Linked DNA regions of Homo sapiens: region 1 is linked to region 2. Evidence: fine-mapped expression QTL. Tissue or cell type: whole blood. Region 2 holds a variant in brackets; the other region holds the start of a gene. All regions are shown on one strand. Distances are from middle to middle.

Region 1 (2,618 bases), 76 kb after region 2:
GATGGACACATTCAGGCCCTTGACCTGTATCTCAGGGTCCTATCACATCTCCCCCTGACATTATCTTTCCCTATGAGCTCTAAACTCTTCCCCACCTTACTCCCTACACATACCCTTATACCTTCCTTCTCCTATCCCAGAGGAATATCAGAGCTGCTGGTGTTATTGATGCTTCTGGTGTTACTACTGGAAACTGTGTCCAGCCCAAAGCGACATCAGGTTGGTGACCAGACTGATGCCATCTATGTGCAGGGCCAAGGGCACAGGCTCCACTCTATCTCCTGCCTGCCAATTCCAGTCCCAGAGATCATACCTCTCAGACGCAACCAAACCTATGCTCATCCTTCTCCCTTAGGTCTCAAGTACCTGGTCCCAGGGTCCAGTTTGCCTCCTGCTCAACAGGCACAAAACTGGACAACAGAATGCCTAAAACTGTACACCCCCAGCACAACGTCCCCAGTTTACCCTATAGGCAATTGCCTGGCCTTCCACACGCCGTTCTGCACATGCGTCTCCAGAGGGCCTGGCACAGCAACTACGACCCCATCCTGTCCCAGTCCTGCGGCACATCTCCAATGGCTCCCACTGCCAAGGGCATGCCCCAGCCGTGCATCAAAGACCTCCCCCTGGAATCATACGCAGATCTCCTGCCCTCCTCCAACTCTGCCCTGGCACACGCCGCCCCCCACCTGGTGGGCCCCCTCATTCCTCGGAGGCATCCTCTGCTCACCTCCGCCTCCCCGGCCATTGGACCGTGCGGGCAGAACCCGTGGACTGGACCCACGGCCTCAGCCGAAACGCGTCCCGGGCGCGGAAACCCTCGGCCGCCGTGGAACCTTCCCGGGAAGCTCTCCCCGCGCGGGTGAAATGCGTCCGAAGACAGGGAACCGCTTCCCGGAGCCGCTGGGAAGGAGGACGGTACGGAGGCCCGGGAGACCCACGGCGCCTGTCCGCGAGCGATAAGTCTGAGGAAGATGGAGCCACTCGCCGGTGGGGCACGGCGCGTGGAAGGCGCGGCAAAGGTCCCTGCCCTTCACCTCGCGCAGGGGATCGCGAGGAAGTCACCCCGGCCCACGCAGAGCTGCCTGAGGCGCCGGGACAGCCTTCCCGCCGAGGACTGCGGACTGCCGGGCAACGCCGGAACTCCCGGAACTCCCGTGGCCCGCGCCTCCCCTCGCTCGGCGCCCCTCACGCCACGACCTCCATTCCCGGCTCTCCTCGCGGCGCGGCTGGGTCGTTGCCAAGGCGATAAGGGAGGGCGCCGCTAGCTCCTGAAGCGGGACGTGAACTACATTTCCCATAAGGAGCCTCGACGTGGGGCCGTTCAGACTTGGCCAATGGCGGCCCAGGAACGGGAACGTTCGGGCGGGCCCTGCGTGGGGCGGGGCTTCCGGCGTCGGCTTTCGGCGCTGGCTTTGGGGCGGTTTGCGGCAGTGGGATCATTGGGCGGTGGGCGGTGTGGAGGAGTCTCCGCTGGTCCGCAGAAACGAACGAAGGCGCGAGAATCGGGAAGTTCTGCCTCAGTGACCTGTACGCGTCCTAGCCGCAGTGAATGTTGCTGAACCCCGGTGACCTCACAGTGGAGGGGCGGCCCCATGGGGCCATCGGACCGCGCCGCGCGGGGGCGTTCGCCAGGGCCTCCGCAGAAGCCCGCCTGTGCCCGCAACCGCCCCGAAATTCTCTCCCTGGCACCGTGTCCGCTTTACGGAGCCCGGAGCAAGGCTCAGAAAAATGTCCCAGCCAAAAACATGGTACATGCCTGTCATCAGGCAAGTCTTCAAAGAGCGGCTGGGACCAGGGGCCGAGGGACCTCGTTTAGAGGCGGCTTAGGGGGAAGGTCAGCAGTTGTGTTTCAGTTGTGTTGGGTTTTCGGCGCCCCACAATGCGGGCGACGTATGGGCCACAGGTGTGGATGCCAGGGACAGGTCGCCCTGCACATGGCTGAGGCACGGTAGGCTTGTAGTCTACCCCATATCAGGCCATGGTGATCTCAGGTATGGGGGCCTGGGAGAGGAGAGTGAGTACATGGCTGAGTACGTCAGAGCACGGGGTCAGGGACACATCAGGGGAGGACGCTGGCAGGAGAATAACCGGGCTCCTGGGTGTCCTCCGCTGAATTCAGACGCGTTCATGTTAGAGCAGGTGGGCCTGCGTCCTCCCGGACGAACGGAGTTCTTAGGCAAGGTCCAGAGGAGCTTCTACCTGAAGTGGTGCTGGAGAACTTTGCACTCAGTGCTGGGTGAGACCACTGGCACCATAACTCTCCCCAGCCTCAACTCTGGTTTTTTTCCTCTGTTCTTTCCATGTTCCCCTTGGAAGTCGCTGTTGGTCGTGGCACTGAGGCCCAGATCATGCCACCTCCTCTAACAAGTGGCTGAGTGGACACCCCACACATTCTACCCAAGGGCCGTGAGTGGCCAAGATCGGGGCTCAGAAGTCTCTGAATCTTCACAGCTGGTCACGTTCAGCTCGGTCACTTCCTGTAAGATTCCAGGCACTGCATGCACTGACATGGGTGCGTGTGGGCCCACTGGGTCCTGCCTGGGAGCCTTCCCTGAATGTTCATTTTTTGCAGGTCTGTGTTTGTCTTGGAGTAAGGATTATTCTCGCTTGCTGGG
Region 2 (2,759 bases):
ACACTTCACCCCGGGTGACAGAGCGAGACTCTGTCTCAAAACAAACAAAAACAAAACAAAGTTTTACATTTTCCTGATATTTAAAAATAAATATCAGGCTGGGTGTGGTGGCTCAGCCTGTAATCCCAGCAATTTGAGAAGTAGAGAAGGGAGGATTGCTTGAGGCTAGGAGTTTGACACTAGGCTGAGCAACATATTGAGACCCTGTCTCTACCAAAAAAAAATTTAATAAATCATTAAAAATATCCTAGTATTTAATCTGGAATTTAATTTTGAGTGTGTGTAAAGTGGAAATCTGTTTTCTTTTGTATGGGGGAGTTCAGTTTTCTCCAATATTCAGTGAACATCCACCCTGTCTTCACTGATTGGTTGAGTCATTTCATGTATATCAAGTTCCAAAAGGTCTGTTCCTAGATTGACCTAGTTGTCCACTCCTGTGCCAATACCACAATATTTTATTTTTTTGAGATGGAGTCTCACTCTGTCACCCAGGCTGGAGTGCAGTGGCATGATCTCAGCTCACTGCAATCTCTGCCTTCTGGGTTCAAGTGATTCTCTTGTCTCAGCCTCCCGAGTAGCTGGGATTACAGGCGTGTGCCACTATACCCGGCTAATTTTTTTTTTTTTTTGTATTTTTAGTAGAGACGGGCTTTCACCATGTTGGCCAGGCTAGTCTTGAACTCCAACCTCAGGTGATCCACCCGCCTCGGCCTCCCAAAGTGCTGGGATTATACACATGAGCCACCGTGCCCAGCCACCACACTATTTTAATATTATATAACTTAACAGTGTTTTTATTTACAATATGACAATTCTTCCCTACTTGTCGTTTTTTCCAAATTGTCTTAGCAATTCTTGGACTTTTCCACATGCATTTTAGAATCTTTTTGTTGGATCATATAAAATGTGCTTCTTTTTATTTTTCTGAGACAGGGTCTCACTCTGTTGCTCCGGCTGGCACGATCATGGCTCACTGCAGCCTCTGCCTCCCAAGGCTCAGGTGATCCTCCTGCCTCAGCCTCCCGAGTAGTTGGGACAACAGGCGTGCACCACCACACCTGGCTAATTTTTGTATTTTTACTAGAGATGGAGTTTCACCATGTTGCCCAAGCTGGTCTTGAATTCCTGGGCTCAAGCAATCTCCCTGCCTTGGCCTCCCAAAGTGCTGGAATTACAGGAGTGAACCACTGCACCCGGCTGAAATGTGGTATATTTTATTTGCATTTCATTTACTTTATAGATTAACTTGGGGAAAATTGGCTGATTGGTTTTTAAAATTTTTTAAAAAAAATTTTATCGAAAAAAAGTAGAGACATGGTCTTGCTATGTTGCCCAGGCTGGTCTTGAACTCTTGGGCTCAAGCAGTCCGCCCGCCTTTGCCTCCCAAAGTGCTGGGCTTACAGGTGTGAGCCACCACATGGGGGAAGGGGCCATGAGCTACAGAACAATTTTCCCCCTAGTGTTTACAGAAGGAATGCAGCCCTGCCAACACTTTTTTTTTTTTTTTTT[G/TG]AGATGGAGTCTCGCCCTGTTGCCCAGGCTGGAGTGCAGTCGTGAGATCTTGGCTCACTGTAGCCTCAACCTCCTGGACTCAAGTGATCCTCCTGCCTCAGCCTTCCAAGTAGCTGGGACTACAGGTGTGCACTACCACACCCAGCTAAAAAAATTTTTTTTAATTGTGTGTTTTTTTTTTTTTTTTTTTTTTTAGAGATGGGGTCTCACTCTGTTGCCCAGGCTGGTCTCAAAGTCTTGGCCTCAAGTGATCCTCCTGCCTCAGCCTCTCAAAGTGCTGGGATTACAGGAGTGAACCACTGTGCCCAGCCATTGCCAACACTCTAGTATTAGCTTGGTGAGATGGTGTCTAACTTCCGGTCTCCAGAATTGTACAATAAGTTTTTGCTGTTTTAAGGCAAAAATAAATCTCATGTTCCCTGTAACTCACCAATCCCATTTTGAGAAATTTATACTACAGAAATAGCCACAGTAGTATCCAAGTGTTTACTCAAGAGAATTAATCATAGCACTGGGTACTGCAGGGTGAGGAGGGAACAAGAAATTCTTTGGTCTTGGTAGAAATGATGGTGCCAGCCAGAAAATAGATTCATCCAGGCATGAAAAGAAAAAAGTTAACTGCTCGCTCACTTCTATAGTACATACACTAAAATTGGAATGATTAGAATGGCCCCTGTGCAAGGGTAAACACAAATTTGTGAAGCATTCCATATGGTGGGGTCATCCCTCTCCTATTGTGAATATTTGCAGTTATTTCATCCATCATCCCTCTCTCTGACCTACCCTTCCGTCTCCCATTTCCGTATTTTTTTTTTCCAGACAGGGTCTCATCCTGTTGCCCAGGCTGGAGTGCAATGGTGTTATCAGAGCTCACTGCAGCCTTAACCTCCTGGGCTCAAGTGATTCTCCCACCTCAGTCTCCCTGGGACTACAGGTATGCGCCACTATGCCTGGCTAATTAGTAGTAGTATTATTTTTGAGACAGGGTCTCGCTTTGTCACCCAGGCTGCAGTGCAGTGGCGCCGTCTTGGCCCACTGCAGCTCTGCCTCCCGGGTTCAAGTGATTCTTATTCCTCAGCCTCCCAAGTAACTGGGACTACAGGTGCATGTCACCATACCTGGCTAATTTTTGTATTTTTTTTAGTACAGTTGAGGTTTCACCATGTTGGCCAGGCTGGTGTCGAACTCCAAGTGGTCCACCTGCCTTGGTCTCCCAAAGTGCTGGGAATATAGGCATGAGCCACCACACC

Evidence for each region. PIP is the estimated chance that this variant, and not a neighbour inherited with it, causes the effect.
Region 1: it holds the start of ZNF584, and the variant in region 2 is fine-mapped to the expression of ZNF584 in whole blood (INTERVAL, PIP above 0.99).

Annotation. Positions count from the first base shown.
Region 1 is chr19:58,407,278-58,409,895 of GRCh38, reverse strand. ZNF584 (zinc finger protein 584) reads right to left here and starts at 1,247. Exons shown (of 4, transcript NM_173548.3): 1 at 731-1,247. The coding sequence starts at 748. ZNF584-DT (ZNF584 divergent transcript) reads left to right here and starts at 1,433. Exons shown (of 1, transcript NR_186337.1): 1 at 1,433-2,618. RefSeq lists a silencer at 1,119-1,178 and enhancers at 1,439-1,488, 1,415-2,060, 2,039-2,088.
Region 2 is chr19:58,483,216-58,485,974 of GRCh38, reverse strand. It overlaps LOC112268251 (a long non-coding RNA gene), which reads left to right and starts at 1,751. Exons shown (of 3, transcript XR_007067366.1): 1 at 1,751-2,443. It also overlaps a transcript of ZNF446 not described here and the pseudogene RNU6-1337P. The variant G/TG (reference allele first, on the strand shown) is at 1,510.